Linked DNA regions of Homo sapiens. The protein of the gene in region 6 interacts with the protein of the main gene of each other region in a biochemical or structural test. Each region holds a gene or a part of one and is shown on either strand. Other genes may lie near its edges. The genes, in order: RADIL, FRMPD3, LIMK2, MAST2, HTRA1, SSTR5 and MPP7.

Region 1 (3,500 bases), on a different chromosome or scaffold from region 6:
CCTACTTTGGCCTCCCAAAGGTTTCCTCTTAAACTCACCACTTTCACCTCAGCTGTCTGGGAAGTTGTAGTTTGTCTACGCAGCAGGAGGCTGGCTGGTGTTCCTCAGAGGCTCCTGATATATTCTTGCAATATTTGAGGCCACATCTGTTCTTTTGTCTGATCAGATTATTGTCCAGCTCTCCAGCAGTCATCTCATTGACCATAGCAACCACGCACGCCTTGTTAAATACAGGGTCCCTCCAAGTCCTTTAGCACCTGCGACCTTGTCGGGGAGTTTTTGGGGCAATGAAGTGAAAAGACAATCAAGGAATCTGTCCCAGGCCAAAACCTACGTGGCATTGCCGGGTTGCAAGGTCTCCAGAGGTGACCACGGTGCACTCAGCGTACCGCGGGTCTGTGGGTGCCTGGGTGGTGGGAGGCCTTCCTGAGGAGGGCCTGGCCACGGGCAGCCGATCATTGTCGGTCTGAGGAGTGCCGAGAGCACGGGTGGCGTTGAGTGCCTGCCGCAGAGTTTGAGAGCCCCGGGGCCTGGGGCCCACTGTGTCTGGTGATTTATTCAATTGGTGGAAAGAAGTTGATTATCTTAATAGGTGTGTGTCATAAAAAATAATTTTGGCCAGGCGCGGTGGCTCACACCTGTAATCCCAGCACTTTGGGAGGCCAACGCAGGTGGATCACCTGAGGTCAGGAGTTGGAGACCAGCCTGGCCAACATGGTGAAACCCCGTATCTACTAAAAATACAAAAATTAGCCGGGCGTGGTGGCAGGCGCCTGTAATCCCAGCTACTCAGGAGGCTCAGGCAGGAGAATCGCTTGAACCTGGGAGGCGGAGGTTGCAGTGAGCCGAGATCATGCCATTGCTCTCCAGCCTGGGCAACAAGAACGAAACTCAGTCTCAAATATAAATAAATAAATAAAATAAATTTGGCCGGGTGTGGTGGCTCACACCTGTAATCTCAACACTTTGAGAGGCCAAGGTAGGAGGATCGCTTGAGCCTAGGAGTTTGAGAGCAGCCTGGGTAACATAGTGAGGCCCCATCTCTACAAAAAATAAAAAAATTAGCCAGGCATGGTGGTGCATACCTATGGTCCCAGCTCCTCAGGAGGCTGAGGTGGGAAGATGGCTTGAGCCGCAGATGCTGCAGCCAGGATTGTACCACTGCACTCTAGCCCAGGCAACAGAGTGAGACCCTGTCTCAAAAAAATAACAATAAAAAGAGTAACTTGTGGTTGCTTTAATTATGGCTCTTAAAGTCTGCTCAGACAAGCACCCCCAATTGCCTGCACCTGGGGATCCTTCCTCCACCCAGAGGTCGCCACTTCTGGGATTTGGTTTTCATCCTGACCCTGCCATGTCACGATCCAGTGGTCCCTTGGAAGGACCGGTGATCCGGTGGCAGAGATGGGGTCCCTCCCCTCCTGATTCAAAAAGACCTCCTGTGAGGCCAGGAAACCCGAAAGGGAGGAGGCGCATGGTGGGATGTTTTCTGCACGGGAACAAAGGCTCTTCAATGTCAGACACAGAATTTCGGTCATTCTTCCACCATGCGTTGCCTCTGCCAAGCAGCGGGCAAAAAGCGAGTGGGACAGGGCCACCTTGGGGCTGCAGAGCACGGGCCAGGGTTGCTGCTGTGTGGCTGGGGATCAGCCTGGCCTGTCCTCAGGCCATTGCGTTGTGTGTCACCGGGCGAGGAGGAGCCCTGGGAAGGCCCGCCGTCTTCACAGGTGATAGGCGACTGCCAGTGTAGGATGGTGGGGCCAGAGTGCATGTTGCAGGAGACAGGAGCTTGTCTGAGGCTCACGTGCTTCTTTTTTTTTTTTTGAGATGGAGTCTCTCTCTGTCGCCCAGGCTGGAGTGCAATGGCATGATCTCAGCTCACTGCAACCTCTGCCTCCCAGGTTCAAACGATTCTCCTGCCTCAGCCTCCTGAATAGCTGGGATTACGGCATGCACCACCACCACGCCCGGCTAATTTTGTTGTTGTTGTTGTTGTTGTTGTTGTTGTTGTTGTTGTTGTTGTTGGAGATGGAGTCTCGCTCTGTCGCCCAGGCTGGAGTGCAGTGGCACAATCTCGGCTCACTGCAAGCTCCGCCTCCCGGGTTCACGCCATTCTCCTGCCTCAGCCTCCCGAGTAGCTGGGACTACAGGCGCCCGCCACCACGCCCGGCTAATTTTTTGTATTTTTAGTAGACACGGGGTTTCACCGTGTTAGCCAGGATGGTCTCCATCTCCTGACCTTGTGATCCGCCCGCCTCGGCCTCCCAAAGTGCTGGGATTACAGGCGTGAGCCACCGCGCCCGGCCAATTTTTGTATTTTTAGTAGAGATGGGGTTTCACCATGTTGGCCAGGCTGGTCTCGAACTCCGGACCTCAGGTGATCTGCCCACCTTGGCCTCCTAAAGTGCTGGGATGACAGGTGTGAGCCACCACACCCGGCCAAGCTCATGCACTTCTTTTGGAATCATTCCTGTTAAATTATTCAGGGCGAGCGAAAGCACCCCTGCTCACAGCCTGTCTAAGCTCGTGGCGGTTTTCGAAACCTGCCAAAGAGAGTCCATCAGGCTGCCCAGCCATACTGACACACTCATCTGGGCTGGAGCAGGTTGTGTTACCTACCCAGAGCTGGCCCCCTGGGCCTCGGGCACTCATCCTTCCTTGCTGACCTTCTCTGGCTGTGGCCCAGGGACTCCTGTGACCCTCAGCCATGCCAAGAAGGTTCACTGAGGCGGCCGGGTGGTTTGAGATGGAGCAGCTGGTAGAGGCATGCACACATGCTTCTGCTCATTACAGAACGGTTATTGAGCCTCTGCCTGGAGCCGGGGGAAGGCTAGACCCAGGGGGTCCCCACGTGGATAAGCCAGGCTCCGCTGGGGATGACCCCGCACAGACCTTACTGTAGCTGGACAGCCCTGCCTCAAACAGGCCCGCGCCCAGAAGCTTTGCGCTAGAGTGTGTTCGGTTGTTGTGGTGACACATGGGTACCTGGACAGAGAAATGTCCACACAGGTGCTCACACACACAGTCTCCCACTTGGAACTGTTCCCTGCGTGAGACACCTGCACGGCCTTTCCGTGGGTTGGAGGCGGCCTCTGTGCACATCCCTGGAACCCGCCTCTGAGAGGTCTCTCCTGCTGGCTTGGAGGCACGGAACGGGGAGGGCACTGAGCCTTTGCTGTGTCCCACGTCCCCCTGAGTGAGTTTGCAGCCGGCACTAGGCGATTCCTCCCTCGCCCCTCCAAGGGGAACGACTGAGAGCCAGAGAAGGGGAGGAGGTGGGAAGCCGAGGGGTTTTTCACTGTAGCAGCTTCTCCAGCAGCCGTGGGCGCCAGCCTGCCTCAGGTTGGAGTGACGTGGAAGAATCGTGGTGGGGAGGCTTTCCTAACACCCACCGTGTCCTCTCCATTACATACCTCCGGTGATGGTGAGCTCTGCGCCTTCCAGCAGCCCGCCTGTCCTGCGCCTCCCTGGGCACCGATGGGGCTGCTGTGGTGTCTGTT
Region 2 (3,500 bases), on a different chromosome or scaffold from region 6:
CTGAGCATGTATCATGTGGAAAGCACTGGACCCTAGGGAGGCACATGTTTTCCATGGAAATGACTAGGCTGGTGTGGTGGCTCATGCCTGTAATCCCAGCGCTTTGGGAGGCCAAAGCAGGAAGATCACTTGAGCCCAGGAGTTTGAGACCAGTCTGGGCAACATAGTGAGACAGCGTCTTTACTTTTAAAAAAATAATTTAAAAAAAATGTAAAAAAAGGAAATGTACCTCTGTACCTCTAATTCATCAGTCCTAGGGTGTGGAATTCTGGGAGACAAAACCCCAGCCCAGGGGAAAGTGGGAGAGTTGGGGGCACAAGACCTGACCTGGAGAATGGGTCACTGGGTGGAATGGTGAGGGATCAGGTTACTGCCTCCACTTTCTAGTGCTCTGAGGGACTCCCACTGTCTGCTTTCCCAAGCCCCGCAGCAGCTTCTTAGCTTTGTAAGATTCAATCTGCCTGTGCTTCCTGCCCTAGAAGCAGGAGAGTGGTGAGACGCACTAGAATCAGCATGCAGATGTACATATGGGACGCAATCGCCCCATACATTCCTCCCATTCCAGATTTCTTGCATTACCAACTAGCTTCTCTTTTAAGATGCAAATTTCCCCGGAGAGTTAAGCCATTCCCACCTTGCTGTGAATATTTAATCAGATTGTTTTCTTCTCAACTGAGAGCATCAGTGCTCACCACCATCTCCTCAGGTAACATTTTTTTCGAGGCACCCCAGTGCTTGGGTTGGAAATATGAAGATGAAGAGGGCCTGGTCTTGGCCCCTGAGTCAGGCACAGTCTAATGGGGAAACACATTAGTCAGTCCCAACACAGTGCATTAGGCACAGGTGCTCTGGAAGCACAGAGGAAGAACACTAAGCCCAGCCTGAGGGAGGTGGAAAAGGCCAGAGCTGGGTCTTGAAAGACAGATAAGAGTTTGTCTAGATTAATCCGTGGGCATGGGTCATGGGAGGAAGTGTTTCCCAGGCAGAGAGATCCATCTGTACAAAGGCCCAGAGATATGAGAAACCATGGTGCAAGGACAGAAATGCAAATCATTCAGCCTAAGCAAGTACAGAAAATGCAAGCTGTGTGCAAGGGGTGAAGATAGGGGCAAGAGAAGAGGCCAGAGAGGTTGGCAGGAGCCAGTTCATGGAGGGCCTTGTGTGCCAAGGAAAGAGGTTGTACTTCATCCTCTAGGCAGCTGGGAGCCATTGAAGGGTTTAAAGCAGGGAGCTGATGTGATTAAACTTATGTTTTAGGATGCTCCCTCTAACAGTGTGGAGGCACTTGAGGGAAAGAGGGAAACAAGTGTCAGTCCTGAAGGTAACCTGGCTGTCACCCTGACACAGGTGGGAATGTCAAGGCAATGACTGGCTAGAGAAGAGGGATGGATAGATTGGAAAAGGAGCTAGGGGGTAAGTATCCAGATGATCTGGTAACTGCTGGCTCTCACATGAGGCGATTAAGGAGGAGTCCAGTGTGACTCACAGGTTTCTGGCTTGATTGCCCAGGGGATGCTGATATAGACCAGGAATGCCTGAAGTGCAGGCTTGGGACTTAGGAATGCTTAGTATGAACGGTATTGAGTGGGACCCCCAGCTGGGGAATGACCAGCATGTACATGACTCTAGGGGTCTGAAACATCTCAGGAGAGAGGTATGGATTAGGTGGGGCGTCAGTTAGTTGGAATTAAACCAAAAACAAAATGAGTAAGCTGGATACTTTAGGAATGAAGATCAGGAGGTAGGACAAGATTTTAGAAAGGGAGATGAGATACTAGAGGGAAGAGCTGTCCAAACTAGAACCTTGCTGCTGTTTTAAGAAGGGCATCTTCACATCTCCACAGTGTCACTTGCTGACTGGTGCCTGTCCTAGGATGTTGAGACTCCTCGTTGAGAACATGGGTTTGCTTTTCCTGTGCCCCTCAGGCTTCTCATATTTCTGGATGGGTTTTTCCACAGGGCTCTGCAATTCAGGCAAAGCTCCAGTATCTACGAATTCTGAATGAACTTCCTACCTTCACGGGCGTTTTGTTCAACACTGTAGGCCTGGTCAGTGGCGCAGGATTGGGGGATGTGGGGAGGGAGCCCCTTGTTGGCTCTTGTCCTTGGGTGTGGGGGCAGGAGGGGCAAATATTTCTAAAGGCCTTCGTTCCTCTTCCTCCTCCTTCTACCTCTTACCTCCCTGGCCCTGCCTCTGCCAAAATGATAAAGTGGGAGGAGATATTTGTTTTGAGTATCCCTCCATGACCTTTTTTTGTTCCTCTTCCTCGATTTGGGGGCGCAGCATACTTTTTCCATAAAGGGCCAGATAGTAAATATTTTAGGTTTTGCAGGCGGGCCATACTGGCAACTGTGGCAACTACTCAGCCCTGCTGTCAGATTATGAAAGCAGCCACAGACAATGCATAAACAAATGGGTGTGGCTGTTTACCAATAATTATTTATGGATACGAAAATTTGAATTTCATGTACTTTTCACATGTCACAAAACATGCCTCTTCTGATTTTTTTTCCCTACCATTAAAAAATCTAAAAACCATTCTTAGCTCCTGGGCCATAAAAAATAGGTGGTGGGTGGTATTTGGCCCATGGGCCATGGTTAGGCAACCCCTGCTCTATTTCATTTTTGTTCCACATACTCCCACAGTCCCCTACCCTAGGTTTCCTGAGTCCTTCTACTTCTCCCCCTGCTTGCTCAGCACCTTTGCTGCAGGAACAAGGCTCTGGGGCAGGGCACAGCTGGTCCCACCCTAAGACTGTGCCCCAGGCTAGTTTACCCTGGTGAAAGGAAATTCAAATCACCTTGCTAATTGGATCCAGGTGCTTGTCTTGCTCCCAGGAGCACATTGTCAGCTAGTGCGGCACATCGGTGGAAAGCCACTTATCAAAGTGCCTATAGACAGGCACAAGAGGTTCCTCAGGGTGATGCTAATACCAGGGAATGGGCCTCCAGACGACCCAAGCTTGATTGCTCCAAGGAATCTGTCAAGACCTCTTAAGGGAATCCAGTCCTTCAGGCCGAGAGGTAGCCATTTACATACTGGGATTTGCAGAACACTGAAAGCCCACTGTCCCCTCCCACCTCCTTCATACACTGTCAAATCTTTCTTCCACCCACCTACCACTGCTAAAATTTCTATTGGCCATACCTGCTGGAGTGCCCATTAAAAGGCAAATCTCTGCTTAACGAGGGAGGCTGCCATGAAGTACCCAATCAACCCTCAACACCTTAGGCAGAGTTACTGTGCCAGTTTAGTTTTTGGCCTGGGTGAGAAGTGCAAGTTTGAGTGGCTGTTGGTGGGGGGAGGGTAAAGACCAGACACAGGATGCCGCCTTCTCAGGCAGAGCACTGGGTGGGGGCCTCAAATGGCCTGCAGCAACAAATGGAAAGCCCCTGGGGCTTGGAAGGGGAGGGTGCTCCAAAGGCCCCCAAACAAACCTCACCTACTTCACGGTTTTGCTTGAGCTAGCCCTTCTGCCTGTGCACTTTACTCAACCTG
Region 3 (3,500 bases), on a different chromosome or scaffold from region 6:
ACTTGTTTTATGCTGCACTGAATTGGCTGAGTTTTGTTCCTGGTTCTCGTTGTCTGGTGGAACGTGAGAAGCTTCAAAGATTTTTTTAAATGAAAGGATAGGATGTTGATTTAAGCTAGGCATTAGAGTCTCATGAGCTCTCAGTGCTTGAGGATTTCTCACCATTTTGAAGCCTAAAAAGGACTCATTTGCAGAAACCAAGCTCTTAGACCAAATTTAAGGTGAACATTGTGGGGACTGCATTGGCTCTGAGCTGGGATACCAGGCCAACCCTTCCACTGAATAGCTGTGTGTTCTTGAGCAAGTCTCAACTTGTCTGAGGCTGCATAGGGTATTAAAAATATGACTGGCATGGTAGTCTCTGAGCATGGGTTTGAATCCCTCCTGGACCATCTTTCAGTAGCTTTGTGGTGGTTAGGCAAGTCTATTTTCCTTCTTTTTTTTTTGGCGCCTGCCCCAGTGGATTCACATTTGTTTGAGGGCCACATTGCTAATTAAGTTGGGAGAGAGAAGCATTCATAAAGTGAATGTAAAGTGAATGTATTTTATACCAAGATTGAAAAGGTCTTAAAGGTGAGAACCCCTATAATGAGACATTTGTTGCAGTGCTCACCTTACGTTGCACAGTTGCACTTATTAAAAGCAACAAATTCCAATAATAACTGAAAACACAGTTTTCTGTTTATTAAACACCTAATAAGGGTCCTTTATTGTTTGAAGGTACTGTGAACATTTACTTAAATCAAGCTCCTTTTCTGGACTCTTCTTTTTTTTATTTTATTTTATTTTTTTGAGACAGAGTCTGGCTCTGTCGCCCAAGCTGGAGCGCAGTGGCACGATCTCGGCTCACTGCAAGCTCCACCTCCCGGGTTCATGCCATTCTCCTGCTTCAGCCTCCCGAGTAGCTGGGACTACAGGCGCCCATCACCATGCCCGGCTAATTTTTTGTATTTTTTAGTAGAGATAGGGTTTCACCGTGTTAGCCAGGATGGCCTTGATCTCTTGACCTCGTGATCCACCCGCCTCGGCCTCCCAAAGTGCTGGGATTACAGGCGTGAGCCACCACGCCCGGCTCTTTTCTGGACTCTTAACAATCAGTAGCCACTGTTGATAAGTCTGCAAATATGAGAGGTAAACACTATAGAGGGAGAGAATGAACAGCCTGGTACAATGAGATATTTTCTTAAGAAAGAACTTCCCAGGCTGACTGGACTTTGGATTGATCCTCCACTAGGCTTCACAGAAATCCCTAAGACTTTGCATTACAGTATTACATTTCTTTTACATTTCCTAGAATAAAGGTGGTAAGAGAATAGATCAATGAATTTTTAAGACTGTAAGAGAGCTAAAGAAGTCAAGAGTGTTCTCTTGAAGAGGGTCTGGGCGTAGGAGGCTGTGTGCTTTGGGTGAATATCTTTGCTCAGGTACTTCCTAACAGAAAAGCAGTGTGAATGCATAACAGGTAAACTGAGGCCAGGTTTATCCACATGAGACTACTCATAGGTAATCTGGGAGCCAGAACAGTTATTCCAGTGGAATCATCTGTGCTGACCTTTGGAACTTATCTTTGGAAATTGCTTTTATAGCTGGCAGTTGGATCCAAATTTTCAGTTGGGTTCACCACACAAAGGAATGTCTGTTTTGCACCAGGCCCAAGGTTAGGCCCTGGAGATAAGAACATAATAAAGATACAGTTCTTACACCTTAGTTCTCTGAATGGGGTGTGGGGGAGGAGAGTGGAGAGAGAGGGACTGAAGGAGAGAGAAACATATGCAGTGAACTGTAATTAAATAACAAATTATGTAAAATAGGTATAGACAAAATGAAACAAACACTGCCTGATTTTAGGGAACTTTAAAGAAAGGATAGAAATTTGATTAAGGGGCCGGGAGCAGTGGCTCACGCCTGTAATCCCAGCACTTTGGGAGGCCGAGGTGGGCAGACCACCTGAGGTTGGGAGTTTGAGACCAGCCTGACCAACATGGAGAAACTCCGTCTCTACTAAAAATACAAAATTAGCCGGGCGTCGTGGCGCATGCCCACAATCCCAGCTATACTCGGGAGGCTGAGGCAGGAGAATCACTTGAACCTGGGAGGCGGAGGTTGTGGTGAGCCGAGATTGTGCCATTGCACTCCAGCCTGGGCAACAAAAGCAAAACTCTGTTTCAAAAAAAAAAATTTTTTTTTTGATTAAGGGAAAAGATAGAGAAGCTTATACATAGAGAATAACTGGAGGTGTGAATGTCAGGATGCAAGTACATGAATAAAAGTGGCAGGAATAGAAAATAGGTCAAAATGTAACTAGAGCATTCTTTTGTAAGGAATGGTGAGAGAGAAGGGTCCTTTGGGACCACATTGTAAGGACCATTTGCTCTTTCAGTAACTGTTTATTGAAGGATTGTAGCAGACCAGGGGCCAGACATGGTTTGCTAGCCCTTTGGAGGTAGCAAAAGCCAACTTTAATGATGTGTGAGAAGTTTTTGTTCCTGCCCCAGGGCCTTTGCACATGTCCCCCCTCTCCAGTGTTAGCCTTCCTTCCCCCCTTTTTTGCCCCGTTAATTTGTATTCATCCTTTAGAGCTCAGCTTGGAAATTACTTCCTCAAGGAATACTTTGGCCGCCCGCCCTTTTCCTAGTTATGAACTTGATATCTTCGTACCACTTGCCCCAATTATAAATAAATAATAATAATAATTATTATTTTTTGAGACAGAGTCTCGCTCTGTCGCCCAAGCTGGAATGCAGTGGAATGATCTTGGCTCACTGCAACCTCCGCCTACCAGGTTCAAGCAATTCTCTTGCCTCAGCCTCCTGAGTAGCTGGGACTACAGGCGCCCACCACCATGCCTGGCTAATTTTTGTATTTGTAGTAGAGACAAGGTTTCACCATATTGGCCAGGCTGGTCTCGAACTCCTGACCTTGTGATCCACCTGCCTCAGCCTCCCAAAGTGCTGGGATTACAGGCGTGAGCCACTGCGCCCGGCCCTCAATAAATAATTATATTATTGTTTAATATTTGCTTTGTGTTTAATCTCTCTCTTGTTTGCTCCTCTTTCCCCAACACAGTGTCAGATGCATAGTTGGCATGCAATAAATATTTGCTGAAAGAATGACTGAAGCGGGTCCATTGAATTTAGCAATAAGCAGTTACTGTTACTGTTGACCTTGGTGAGACAGTTTCAGAGAAATGGTGGGGGTGGAAGCCAGATTGCAGTGCATTATGCAGAAAGTGGGAAGTGAGGAAATGAGGGCAGCGATGTGTAGACAACTTTTTTTCTTTTTTCTTTTTTTTTGAGTTGGAGTTTCACTCTTGCCCAGGCTGGAGTGCAATGGCGAGATCTCAGCTCACTGCAACCTCTGCCTCCCGGGTTCAAGCCATTCTCCTGCCTCAGCCTCCTGAGTAGCTGGGATTACAGGCATGCACCACCATGCCTGGCTAATTTTGTATTTTTGGTAGAGATGTGGTTTCTCCATGTTGGTCATGGCTGGTCTCAAATTCC
Region 4 (3,005 bases), on a different chromosome or scaffold from region 6:
CAGCAGCATGGAGCGGCTCTCACTGCTCGAGGAGCGCCGGACACCACCCCCGACCAAGCGCAGCCTGAGTGAGGAGAAGGAGGACCATTCAGATGGCCTGGCAGGGCTCAAAGGCCGAGACCGGAGCTGGGTGATTGGCTCCCCTGAGATGTGAGCACCCAGAGTTCACCCAGGGTGGGCGACACAGCTATCCCTGCATTGTCACAGATCATGGGAGAGATTCCGATGCCAGGGAGGAGTGCAGGTGGCAGGGAGGGGGCATTCACAAGGGTGGCTCCTGGAGGAATGTCTGCGGAGGAAAGTTCTGTTACTATAACCCTTGTGTGCCCCTAAGGAGACCTGGCAGGAGGAGGGGGACCACCTGGGTCACTCACCCCAGGCCTTGTGTCTCATAGATTACGGAAGCGGCTGTCGGTGTCTGAGTCATCCCACACAGAGAGTGACTCAAGCCCTCCAATGACAGTGCGACGCCGCTGCTCAGGCCTCCTGGATGCGCCTCGGTTCCCGGAGGGCCCTGAGGAGGCCAGCAGCACCCTCAGGAGGCAACCACAGGAGGGTATATGGGTCCTGACACCCCCATCTGGAGAGGGGGTATCTGGGCCTGTCACTGAACACTCAGGGGAGCAGCGGCCAAAGCTGGATGAGGAAGCTGTTGGCCGGAGCAGTGGTTCCAGTCCAGGTATGGCCCAGTGGGCGGCCAAACGACCTAAGCTGGAGGATACTGCAGGGCAGGGAGGCTCAGCGGCATCGCGGGTCTCACTGCTTACTTGGGCCTACAGCTATGGAGACCCGAGGCCGTGGGACCTCACAGCTGGCTGAGGGAGCCACAGCCAAGGCCATCAGTGACCTGGCTGTGCGTAGGGCCCGCCACCGGCTGCTCTCTGGGGACTCAACAGAGAAGCGCACTGCTCGCCCTGTCAACAAAGTGATCAAGTCCGCCTCAGCCACAGCCCTCTCACTCCTCATTCCTTCGGGTGAGGCCCCTGGGGAGCTGGGATAAAACTCACAGGAAGGGCCTTGTAATCTCTAGGCCTTGGGAGGGTTCTGCACGTGGCAGGTGTGTGTGTGTGTGTTAAGCACAGATCTGACTGTGGTCTCTGAAGGTGTGTATTGGTGTCTGGGGTTGTGTATACATGTGCCAGAAAGCAGGACAGCACCATGTCACAAGTGCAGGCTTTGGGGTAGAGAGCTCACACTCAAATCCTGGCTCCATCACTAACAGGCTCTTGACCTTGAGCAAGTTGCTTAACTTCTCTAAGCCTCAAGTTTCTTATCCAAAAATGTGGATATAATAGAGGCCAGCTGATAGGTTGTGACATTTAAATATATATGACAAGCTTATATAGTCCCTGATACACACATAAATGCTAGCTGCCATTTCTCATCACCACCACCGTCTCTTGGGGTCTGGACACGGGAGAGGGCTTCACAGGTCAGGGGCTGTGGGGAAAATGGACCTAGGCTCAGGCTCTGTCTGTGACTAGAGTTGTGCTGACATCAACAGACTGGACCAGGGGCCAGGCCAAAGCCCTCTGACCCACTAAGTCCTGGCTTCTCCTTCTCCAGAACACCACACCTGCTCCCCGTTGGCCAGCCCCATGTCCCCACATTCTCAGTCGTCCAACCCATCATCCCGGGACTCTTCTCCAAGCAGGGACTTCTTGCCAGCCCTTGGCAGCATGAGGCCTCCCATCATCATCCACCGAGCTGGCAAGAAGTATGGCTTCACCCTGCGGGCCATTCGCGTCTACATGGGTGACTCCGATGTCTACACCGTGCACCATATGGTGTGGGTATGTCTGACCATCCAGACCTGCTGTCTCCCTGCTTCATCATCCTTCCAGCTTCCCCTTTGTGGAGCCCATCTGTCCCTGCTCGGGGGTCAAAGGGTGGTGGTGAAGGGGCTCACAGCTTAATGTCCAGAACCAGGCCCCATACTTCGTGTTCAGGCTCCAGTCTGAGTACTGTTCTCTTCCTGGCACAGCACGTGGAGGATGGAGGTCCGGCCAGTGAGGCAGGGCTTCGTCAAGGTGACCTCATCACCCATGTCAATGGGGAACCTGTGCATGGCCTGGTGCACACGGAGGTGGTAGAGCTGATCCTGAAGGTTAGTGCTGGGCGTGCTGCCTGCATGGTCCCTGAATGACCTCAGCCTGTGAGTCTGTGATGGCAGTTAGGGGAGTGGGTGAGTTGGGTGCACACACATCTACACCGAGTATGGATGTAGGTACACACAGGCCGGGCGCGGTGGCTCATGCCTGTAAATCCCAACACTTTAGGAGGCTGAGGCAGGTGGATCACTTGAGACCAGAAGTTTGAGACCAGCCTAGCCAACATGGTGAAACCCTGCCTCTACTAAAAATACAAAAAAAAAAAAAAAAAAATGCCTGGGTGTGGTGGCTCACGCCTGTAATCCCAGCACTTTGGGAGGCCGAGGCGGGTGGATCACCTGTGGTCAGGAGTTTGAGACCAGCCTGCCCAGCATGGCAAAACTCTACTAAAAATAACAAAAATTAGCCAAGCGTGGTGGTAGGCACTTGTAATCCCGGCTACTCGGGAGGCTGAGGAAGGAGAATTGCTTGAACCTGGAAGGCAGTTTGCAGTGAGCTGAGGTCATACCACTGCACTCCAGCTTGGGAGACACAGCAAGACTCTGTTTCCAAAAAAAAAAAAAAAAATTAGCCGAGTGTGGTAGCACATGCCTGTAATCCCAGCTACTTGGGAGGCTGAGGCAGGAGAAGTGCTTGAACCCAGGAGGCAGAGGTTGCAGTGAGCTGAGATCGCACCACTGCACTCCAGCCTGGGTGACAGAGTGAGACTCTGTCTTAAAAAAAAAAAAAAAAGATGTAGGTACACACAGAACTTGAATGTGGCACAACAGAGAGTTTTCTCCACAAGGCAGTACCCTCCCTGACTAAGGCCCAGGGATCCTTCTGAGCTGTGGGTAGGGCTGCAGAATGGGACGGATTAGCCTGTTTTCTACCTTCTTACCCCAAACCACTCTG
Region 5 (3,500 bases), on a different chromosome or scaffold from region 6:
TGAATGAATGAAGACAAACGGGAGGTGCTTGCGATACACAGCCATTCTGTTTTTCCTTAGTGGAAGGCACTGCTTTGCTGCGCCCCCTCTCTGGATCTCACACTCCACCCTTGACTTTTCGGAGGTGTTTCCGAGGACAGGCGCCTGGGAGCCAGCAGACTTCATTCAGTCCAAGCCAGGCTCCAGGACTCAACAGCTGGTGCCCACGGGCAGGTCACTTGACGTCACTGTTAAATGAGGTGAATTGGCTGCCTGCTCTGGCTGGAAGATTGGCGGGAGAGTCACTTTAGCTGCCATGGACATGAGCCTTTTCTAGGGGTGCCACTTGACTAGAGGCCTGGAGTTGGAGCAAGTCATACACGGATCTGGAGACAGAGCTCTCGAGGCAGGAGCGGGTGCTGCGATTTCAAATATTATAAGGTGGCTTTGTCTGGGGCAGAGCATGCCAGGGGATGAGAGGTAGAAATGTCATCAGATCAGGGGTCCCCAGGGAGGTGACTAGCACTTTGGGTCACAGTAGATCTTTGGATAGAGGAACATGTCACCATTCAAAGGAAAGCACTTTCATCTGTAAGCTGTTTATTGAATAGACCTCAGAGAACATCTCTGCTCACCGCTCTGGAAATGAAGGCAAATCATCTATTTCAGAAGTCAATGCACTGGCAGGGTTTGGATGGGAAAGTATACAATTCAGCTAGAGAACAAAGATCTGTCATCTCCAGCTGTACTGGTCAGATGATTACAAAAAAGAAAGGAATTGAAATACTAATAGGGTACTAATAATGAGGGCTAACATATATGTTGTGCTTATTCTATGCCGGGTGCATACTAATTCATTTGATCCTCCGGACAGTCCTATGAGTGAGTGCTGTAGTCTTCCCTGGGTTACAGCTGGGCAGCTAAGTCACAGAGAAGTACCTTGCTCAGGACTGGTGGTCCCACACAACTGGATGGAGAGCCTCGTTCATAACCACCATGCTGTGCTGTTGACAGAGCAACAGAGATTTTAAACCAACCCCAGCTAAGCCCCAGCTAATAGCTGAAATAAACAGGGCTCCAGATGGCTGTGGCTTAGAGATGGAACAGGACAGATCACAGCCTTCACTCTGCAGGCTCAGGAGCCTGAAGACAAGGTTGCCTCCAGTTGCCGTCAGTGCAGCCCTCACTAAAGAAAAGCAAAAAGAGCCGAGGGACTGTAGGAAGGCTGTTTCCAAGCCAGAGATCCAGACAAACTGCTCTTGAAGAGAGAAAGCCCTTCCAGATTCCCCCATGTCCCAAAAGACCAGCCGGGATTCCGGACCTCTGCTAAAACATGGACAAGAAGCCAGGAACGAGACCTGAAACAGACTTCCCAAACAGCAGAAGCCTCATCCATTTCTCCTGCTAGTACATCCTCCAGGAAAGCCCACCCTACTCCATGCAGCAGCCCAGACAAGCTTGGAGGTCTGCAAGCTGCAGGGGTGCCCAGAAACTCCACCCCTGGAGGTTTTTAGGATCGCCTGCTCCTGGTCTCACCCCAGAGCCTCTAAAGGCAGAGGCTGTATGTACATACCTGGTGAAGAACCAAGGGCTTAGATGGTTGCTTTACTTCTTGGAGCCCTGGAATGTTTGTAAAATTTACTTTTTTTTTTGAGACAGTGTCTCGTTCTGTCGCCTACGCTGGAGTGCAGTGGCGCGATCTCGGCTCACTGCAAGCTCCACCTCCCGGGTTCATGCCATTCTCCTGCCTTAGCCTCCAGAGTAGCTGGGACTACAGGCACCCGCCACCACGCCCAGCTAATTTTTTTGTATTTTTTGGTAGAGACGGGGTTTCACCGTGTTAGCCAGGATGGTCTCCATCTCCTGACCTTGTGATCCGCCCGCTTTGGCCTCCCAAAGTGCTGGGATTACAGGAGTGAGCCACTGCACCCGTGCCAAAATGTACTTTATTTAGGTGACTCTTTCGTGGGAACCTCAAACAAGCAATCATTGCTAGCTGAGTGCTGACCCTGTACTGAGCTCTGGGGAGACAGGGTTGAATAAAACAAAGTCACTGCCCACAGGTAACTTATATTCAATACAATGGGGGAAAATACAATCACTGCTTCCCTGGGGTTGTATTTTTCCATTGTTAAAGTGGGCAGTTTGCTCGAGAGTCATTTTCACTATTGGCAATTCAAATACACCTTTTGTCAGTTAAAAAACAAGTGTGCCAGGGACCTGAGCTTCATCTTAGGGCAGGGTGGGTGGAAACATTTGTGAGTCTCCAGCTTTTAGTCACCTGAAACTTGGAAACTTGGAGGTCTTTTGAGCAGTTTATGAGTCTCTGCCTGCTCTGGTCGGCTGCCTTCTTTTATTGCTCTGTTGGTTTTGCTAAAGAGTTAAAATATTAAGGCTTCATAAAATTAGGAAGTTAACAAGCTCAAAAACCAAGTGTTTGAGTTACTTCATTCCACTGAGAGAGCTGTAAATGGGTTGCATTGGAACTTAAAATAACTGCATTGAGTAAGTGATGGTGGCGGGCACCATGAGCTAACTGTGGTCAGAAGCCTGATGGCCTCCGCTTTGGGGCTGGATTCTCCGTTTGGAGCTGTGTGATCCTGGATGAGTTTCATGCCTTGGATTCAGAAATCAGACTTTCCATGAGCTTATATTTCAAGTGAATAAATAGCTCTGGTCAGGCTTAATTTGAAGAAGAAGTAAGCTTGGCAGTGGGTGAGGGTTCCTTGGAAGGCCAACTGGGGCGGAGGGGCTGAGGGCAAGCGGCTCTGGCCCTTCCTGGGGTGTTACCTGACCAGGTAACAGCTCCCTCGACCTCTCGGAGCCTCGGCAGTGAGGGGATTGGGCCAGTTGATCTCTGAGGCTCCTTTTAACTAGAATGGTCTGGGATTTTTCTAAGAAAACAAGTCTTTGAGGAGGTTGTGGTCACCTCATTCCTAATTTAAAGCCTGGGGAGGCTTCCTTATGAGCTACTTCTTTTTCCTAAATTATTGATGGTTAAAGCCAAGGCTGGCATCGAATAGATGTGATCCATCTTGAGCCTGGTTGCTTTGTGTTTCAGCTTTGTACTGGCTGCTGAAGTCCCCGGGAGACCACAGGGGTGACATGTTCATCTCCAAGAGATGAGCTTCCACGAGACTCATACCCCTTGCTCCTTCCCTGGGGCTCCAAGGCCTTTGGGTCATCTGAAGTGAGATACCCTTGTGTCATTTCATCTTTTCCTTCTCCACCTTCTCTGCCGTTAAAAAAAAAAGAAGAAAGAGAAAAATCCTATTAATAGAGAAACCGAGAAGTGTAGCCATTCTGAATGTGTTTCCAAAAGGCTCCTGGAAGTGGCATGGAAGTTACAGTGATTCAGCACTACTTGGTGACGTGTGCCTAGAACCACAGGGGGACATTAGCCAGGACAACACGCCTCAGGACAGAAGTAAGTGGCTGCGAAGAGGCATGTCCATCACTGCCGGAAAGATGCAGAGTTCAGTTTTTGGAGTCAGTGCTGAGAGTTCCATTTCTAAATTCAT
Region 6 (3,104 bases):
CACCCCAGGGCTGCCGCCATGGAGCCCCTGTTCCCAGCCTCCACGCCCAGCTGGAACGCCTCCTCCCCGGGGGCTGCCTCTGGAGGCGGTGACAACAGGACGCTGGTGGGGCCGGCGCCCTCGGCAGGGGCCCGGGCGGTGCTGGTGCCCGTGCTGTACCTGCTGGTGTGTGCGGCCGGGCTGGGCGGGAACACGCTGGTCATCTACGTGGTGCTGCGCTTCGCCAAGATGAAGACCGTCACCAACATCTACATTCTCAACCTGGCAGTGGCCGACGTCCTGTACATGCTGGGGCTGCCTTTCCTGGCCACGCAGAACGCCGCGTCCTTCTGGCCCTTCGGCCCCGTCCTGTGCCGCCTGGTCATGACGCTGGACGGCGTCAACCAGTTCACCAGTGTCTTCTGCCTGACAGTCATGAGCGTGGACCGCTACCTGGCAGTGGTGCACCCGCTGAGCTCGGCCCGCTGGCGCCGCCCGCGTGTGGCCAAGCTGGCGAGCGCCGCGGCCTGGGTCCTGTCTCTGTGCATGTCGCTGCCGCTCCTGGTGTTCGCGGACGTGCAGGAGGGCGGTACCTGCAACGCCAGCTGGCCGGAGCCCGTGGGGCTGTGGGGCGCCGTCTTCATCATCTACACGGCCGTGCTGGGCTTCTTCGCGCCGCTGCTGGTCATCTGCCTGTGCTACCTGCTCATCGTGGTGAAGGTGAGGGCGGCGGGCGTGCGCGTGGGCTGCGTGCGGCGGCGCTCGGAGCGGAAGGTGACGCGCATGGTGTTGGTGGTGGTGCTGGTGTTTGCGGGATGTTGGCTGCCCTTCTTCACCGTCAACATCGTCAACCTGGCCGTGGCGCTGCCCCAGGAGCCCGCCTCCGCCGGCCTCTACTTCTTCGTGGTCATCCTCTCCTACGCCAACAGCTGTGCCAACCCCGTCCTCTACGGCTTCCTCTCTGACAACTTCCGCCAGAGCTTCCAGAAGGTTCTGTGCCTCCGCAAGGGCTCTGGTGCCAAGGACGCTGACGCCACGGAGCCGCGTCCAGACAGGATCCGGCAGCAGCAGGAGGCCACGCCACCCGCGCACCGCGCCGCAGCCAACGGGCTTATGCAGACCAGCAAGCTGTGAGAGTGCAGGCGGGGGGTGGGCGGCCCCGTGTCACCCCCAGGAGCGGAGGTTGCACTGCGGTGACCCCCACCCATGACCTGCCAGTCAGGATGCTCCCCGGCGGTGGTGTGAGGACAGAGCTGGCTGAAGCCAGGCTGGGGTAGACACAGGGCAGTAGGTTCCCCACCGTGACCGACCATCCCCTCTAACCGTCTGCCACACAGCGGGGGCTCCCGGGAGGTAGGGGAGGTGGCCAGACCGGTGGGGGGCTCCGCCATGCCGTGCAAGTGCTCAGGGCCGCCTCACCCTCCATCTGGCCCCAGCCCATGCCGGCCTTCCCTCTGGGGAGCGACTTTTCCAGAAGGCCGGCCAGGCGAGAGGGTCTTCCTGACGGCGGAGCTGACCTGCCCGGCCCACCAGCTGCATGTCAGCTCCGAGCCACCGGGTCCCCGTCCAAGGCTGCTCTGCTAAGTTAAAGACACCCGAAAGCGCTTGACTCAGGTCCCCGGAGTCCCTGGCCAGGGCCCCAGCCCCTCGCTTGCCCTGCACTGTGTGGACTCTGGGGATGCAGGTGTAAGGGGAGTGTGGCTGGGCAGCCCCTGGTCAGCCAGGGTCACGCCTGTCCTGGGGGCCCCACCCTGCTGCCCGACACCCCCCATGGGAGGCTGCGGGCGGCAGTTGCTGTCTCAGAGAGGGGAGTGTGGGGGCTTGGGCGCTGGCCTAGCCAGGGGCGAGGTGGGGAGGCGGCTGGTGCAGAGGAGAGCTGGGGGCTGAGGTTGGGGTGAAGGCTGCAGCCCTCCAGGCTGCTGGGGGTGCAGATGGCTGTGCCGTGCTGAGATTGGCTCTGTCTGGAGGGGTCCAGTGTGGGGTGCCTGAGGGCACTAGGGAGAGGTGCTCCTGCTGCAGGAGGACCTGAGGGTCAGGGCTTGGAGAGGACAGGGAACCTGCGGCCGTCTCTTCTGCTTTGGGGCAGGGGCTCTGGCCCGGGAGAGGGAACGGGGACAGGAGCAGAGGACGGTCATCCAGGCGCAGCGGGGAGCTGCTCCCCAGGCCACAGCAGACAGCACTGCTGAGAGGCAGCGGCCGCGCGGGTGACGCAAATGGCAGGCCCTGGGAATCCCGCCGCCTCCCACCTAGAATTGTCCTACCTCCCCCACCCCAAACACCAGCTTTTCCTGGCGCCCCAGGCCCAGAACGTGGGCCCAGAGAGCCTTGCTGGGGTCTCTGGGGCACCTTGGCCTTGCTCTGAGGCTGGAAGGAGAAGGACCAGGGTGCGGCATCACTCGGCCTCAGGGACCCCTCTGCCCTGCCCAGCACTGGCCCCGACCCGTGCTCCCGCCGTCTGCCCAGAGCAGGACCTCAACCTCCTGGAGGGCACAGGGAGCGGCTGAGTGGGCACAAATCCTGGCAGGAGAAAGGCCCAGGCTGAGGCCAGGCCTGGGAAACATCCAAGCAGTGAGGACACGCGTGTTTGACAACTGCTCCCCTGAATAAATGCGAGGATAAATGTTTGATTCTTTCCCCGAGCAAATATTGTCCCTGGAGCCGAGTGCAGCCAGCGCAGAGTGAGCGGAGCCTGGGCTCCCCCGAGGCCCGACACAGGGCCCGCCCCCGGCCCCAGCCCCGCTGAGCCAGACAAGGCCGGGACGGGGGCGGCCAAATGCCCAGCAGGAAGCGGGAGGCGTGGAATTCGTGAACAGGGTGAAAAATGATGGAAGCTGCCTGGGGTCTTAGGCTGGAGCTGCCCCTCACAGCTTCTTGACAGCTCTGGGCGGGGCAGGGTGGGCTTCTGCAGGGGGTCCACAAATCTCTGCCTCTTGAGTCACCAAAGAGGGGTGCATCCAGGGTGCACTGGGGGAAACCGAGGCCCGTTCACACCGCAGCACCCCCCTCGACCTGCCTCCCCAGGGATTTGGGTGCCATGTTCACCCTCTCAGAAGGCTTTGGGGACCGAGCAGATGGCTCGGAAATCCCTGCCAAGATCAATTTCTCCAATTGATTTGACACCGGGC
Region 7 (3,500 bases), on a different chromosome or scaffold from region 6:
CCAGGCATGGTGGCTCACGCCTGTAATCCCAGCACTTTGGGAGGCCGAGGCGGGCGGATCACAAGGTCAGGAGATTGAGACCATCCTGGCTAACACGGTGAAACCCTGTCTCTACTAAAAAATAGAAAAAATTAGCCGGGCGTGGTGGTGGGCGCCTGTAATCCCAGCTACTCGGGAGGCTGAGGCAGGAGAATTGGCCTGAACCCAAGAGGCAGAGCTTGCAGTAAGCTGAGATCGTGCCACTGCACTCCAGCCTGGGCCACAGAGCGAGACTCCGTCTCAAAAAAAAAAAAAAAAAGTCTTGAATTTTGTTAAATGAGATACATTCGGAAGGAAAGGGTATTCCTTCATTTTGAATTTAAAGTGAAGGAAATTGTTAGTCAGGCTTGCTCTCTGAAGATACTGTGTTTTTTACAAACTGAAGGTTCGTTGGCAACCCTGCAAGTCGATTGGTGCTATTTTTCCAATAGTGTATGTTCATTTTGTGTGTCTCTGTCATATTTTGGTAATTCTCACAATATTGCAAACTTTTCATTGTTATTCTGTCTGTTATGGTGATCTCTGGTCAGTGATCTTTGATGTTACGATTCTAATTGTTTTGGGGCTCCATGAACTGCACCTATATAATATGGTGAACTTAACTGATAAATGTTACATATGTTCTGATATCTCCACCAACTGGCCATTCCCCAACTCTCTTCCTCTCCCCAGGCCTCCCTATTCCCTGAGACACAACAATATTGAAATTAGGCCAATTAATAACTCTACATTGGCATCTAAGTATTCAAGTGAATGGAGAGTCGCGTGTCTCCCACTTTAAATCAAAAAGCTACAAATGAGTGAGCTTAGTGAGGAGGTCATGACAAAAGCTGAAACAGGCCAAAAGCTAGGCCTCTTGCACCAAACAAGCGAGCTCTGAATGCAAAGGAAAGGTTCTTGAAAGAAACTAAAAGTGCTACTCTGCTGAACGTCCAAATGATAAGAAAGTGAAACAGCCTTATTGCTAATATAGAGAAGGTTTTAGTGGTCTGGATAGAAGATCAGACCAGCCACAACATTCCCTTAAGCCAGCAGAGCAAAACCCTCTCTTCAATTCGATGAAGGCTGAGAGAGGTAAGGAAGTTACAGAAGAAAAGTTGGAAGCTAGAAGAGGTTGGTTCATGAGGTTTAAGGAAAGAAGCTGCTTCCCTAATGTAAAAGTGCAAGGTGAAGCAGCAAATGCTGATATAGAAGCTGTAGCATGTTATCCAGAATATCTAGCTAAGATCACTGATGAAGGTGGCTACACTGAACAACAGATTTTCAGTGTAGATGAAACAGCCTTATATTGGAAGAAGATGCCGTCTCGGACTTTCTTAGCTAGAAGGAAGTCAGTGCTTCACCTCAAAGGCCAGGCTGACTCTTTTGTTTGGAGCTAGTGCAGCTGGTGACTTTAAGTTGAAGCCACTGCTCATCTACCATTCCAAAAATTGTTAAGCGTCATGCAAAATCTACTCTGCCTGTGCTCTATAAATGGAGCGACAAAGCCTGGATGACAGTACATCTGTTTATGGCGTGGTTTACTGAATCTGTTAAGCTCACTGTCGAGACCCACTGCTCAGAAGAAAGGGTACCATTGAACAAGTGCTGCTCATTGACAATGCACCTGGTCACCCAAGAGCTCTGATGGAGATGTACAAGGAAATTAATGTTTTCATACCTGCTAACACAACATCCACTCTGTACCCATGGATCTAGGAGTCATTTCAACTTTCAAGAGTTATTATTTAAGAAGCACATCTTGTAAAGCTATAGCTGCCATAGATAGTGATTGTTCTGATGGATCTTGGCTAAGTAAATTGAAAACCTGGAAAGGATTCACAATTCTAGATGCCATTAAGGGCATTTGTGATTCAAAGGAGGAGGTCAAAATGTCACCATTAACAGGAATTTAGAAGAAGTTGATTCCAGCTCTCATGGATGACTTTGAGGGGTTCAAGACTTCAGTGGAAGAAGTACCTGCAGATGTGGTGGAAATAGTATACTGAGAACTAGAATTAGAAGTAGACCCTGAAAATATGACTGAATTGCTGCAATCTTATTATCAAACTCGAATGGATGAAGAGTTGCTTCTTCTGAATGAGCAAAGAAAGTGGCTTCTTGAGAGAGAGTCTATTCTTGGTGAAGATGCTGTGAGCATTGTTGAAATGACAATGAACGATTTACAATATTCTGTAAACTTGGTTAATAAAGCAGTGGCAGGGTATGATAGGATTGACTTCAATTGTGAATGAGGTTCTACTGTGGGTGAAATGCTACCAAAAGAGAGATCTTTTCTGAAAGGCAGAGTGAGTTGATGTGGCAAACTTCATTTTTTTTATTTTTTTGAGACGGAGTCTCGCTCTGTTGCCCAGGCTGGAGTGCAATGGCACGATCTTGGCTCACTGCAACCTCCGCCTCCCAGGTTTAAGAGATTCTCCTGTCTCAGCCTCCTGAGTAGCTGGGATTACAGGTGCACACTGCCACAGCTGGCTAATTTTTTATATTTTAGTAGAGATGGGGTTTCACTCTGTTGACCAGGCTGGTCTTGAACTCCTGAGCTCACGCAGTCCACCCACCTCAGCCTCCCAAAGTGTTAGGATTACAGGCGTGAGCCACAGCGCCCGGCCTTATTGTTTTCTTATTTTAAGAAATTGCCACAGCCATCCATCTTTCAGCAGCCAGCACCTTGTTCAGTCAGCAGCCATCAACATCAAGGCAAAATCCTCCACCAGCAAAAAGATTATGACTCCCTGAAGGCTCGGATGATCACTAGCATTTTAAAAAAATTATAAAGCATTTTAAAATTAAGAGCTAATGCTATTGCCAACATAATAGACTACAGTATACTGTAAATATAACTTCTATATGCACTTGGAAAGCAGAAACATTTCTGTTACCTTATTGCAGTGTTAGTTTTACTAAGGTGGTCTGGAATGGAACATGTGATATCTTCAAGGTATGCCTACGATTTCAGAAATAACCTCTCCTATTGAACCCTCTGATTCTTCCTGTGTTCAGAAACCCAGACCAAAGTGTAGATTTATTGGTCTTTATTTATGAGTAGTTGAATTTTTTTAATGTCTTGTGTTTTGTTTAAATTTTATGTAAACTGCGGCTTAGCTCTTTCAGCATAGTCTTATGCTTTGCTTTCTTAGATTACTGAGTCTTTAAAAGAACTGGTAAAGTGCATATGTGTGGAAAGATTATTTGCTACCTACTATGAACAGATACTTAAGTAAAAAAACAAAAACAAAAAAACCCAAGATGTTTTTTCCAGGCATATAAATGTTTTTTTCTTGAAGAGGCATTTAGTCTTTCTATTTACTAGAACATTATCAGCTTGCTTTACTTATGAAAGAGAGGAGACCATTCTTTTCTCTGTGAATTTAGGAGCTATTTGTCAGGCTTGTTTATTACTGATTGGGTTGCTTGTTACTGATTGTTAGAGAAGGGAGATGAAAATACATAGCAGTTGCGAT

Evidence for each region.
Region 1: the proteins of SSTR5 (region 6) and RADIL interact in a test that uses a peptide from one of them, tested with the Homo sapiens proteins (one large-scale study listed by IntAct).
Region 2: the proteins of SSTR5 (region 6) and FRMPD3 interact in a test that uses a peptide from one of them, tested with the Homo sapiens proteins (one large-scale study listed by IntAct).
Region 3: the proteins of SSTR5 (region 6) and LIMK2 interact in a test that uses a peptide from one of them, tested with the Homo sapiens proteins (one large-scale study listed by IntAct).
Region 4: the proteins of SSTR5 (region 6) and MAST2 interact in a test that uses a peptide from one of them, tested with the Homo sapiens proteins (one large-scale study listed by IntAct).
Region 5: the proteins of SSTR5 (region 6) and HTRA1 interact in a test that uses a peptide from one of them, tested with the Homo sapiens proteins (one large-scale study listed by IntAct).
Region 7: the proteins of SSTR5 (region 6) and MPP7 interact in a test that uses a peptide from one of them, tested with the Homo sapiens proteins (one large-scale study listed by IntAct).

The regions. Positions count from the first base shown.
Region 1 is NC_000007.14:4,873,717-4,877,216, reverse strand, and holds part of RADIL (ras-associating and dilute domain-containing protein), read left to right. Parts: intron 1-3,500. UniProt on the Homo sapiens protein: Downstream effector of Rap required for cell adhesion and migration of neural crest precursors during development.
Region 2 is NC_000023.11:107,561,152-107,564,651, forward strand, and holds part of FRMPD3 (FERM and PDZ domain-containing protein 3), read left to right. Parts: intron 1-1,959; coding exon 1,960-2,049; intron 2,050-3,500.
Region 3 is NC_000022.11:31,218,798-31,222,297, forward strand, and holds part of LIMK2 (LIM domain kinase 2), read left to right. Parts: intron 1-3,500. UniProt on the Homo sapiens protein: Serine/threonine-protein kinase that plays an essential role in the regulation of actin filament dynamics. Acts downstream of several Rho family GTPase signal transduction pathways.
Region 4 is NC_000001.11:46,030,612-46,033,616, forward strand, and holds part of MAST2 (microtubule-associated serine/threonine-protein kinase 2), read left to right. Parts: coding exon 1-150; intron 151-395; coding exon 396-679; intron 680-779; coding exon 780-974; intron 975-1,566; coding exon 1,567-1,793; intron 1,794-1,984; coding exon 1,985-2,107; intron 2,108-3,005. UniProt on the Homo sapiens protein: Appears to link the dystrophin/utrophin network with microtubule filaments via the syntrophins. Phosphorylation of DMD or UTRN may modulate their affinities for associated proteins. Functions in a multi-protein complex in spermatid maturation.
Region 5 is NC_000010.11:122,464,553-122,468,052, forward strand, and holds part of HTRA1 (serine protease HTRA1 precursor), read left to right. Parts: intron 1-3,500. UniProt on the Homo sapiens protein: Serine protease with a variety of targets, including extracellular matrix proteins such as fibronectin. HTRA1-generated fibronectin fragments further induce synovial cells to up-regulate MMP1 and MMP3 production.
Region 6 is NC_000016.10:1,078,851-1,081,954, forward strand, and holds the end of SSTR5 (somatostatin receptor type 5), read left to right. Parts: 5' UTR 1-18; coding exon 19-1,113; 3' UTR 1,114-2,604; downstream 2,605-3,104.
Region 7 is NC_000010.11:28,296,565-28,300,064, reverse strand, and holds part of MPP7 (MAGUK p55 subfamily member 7), read left to right. Parts: intron 1-3,500. UniProt on the Homo sapiens protein: Acts as an important adapter that promotes epithelial cell polarity and tight junction formation via its interaction with DLG1. Involved in the assembly of protein complexes at sites of cell-cell contact.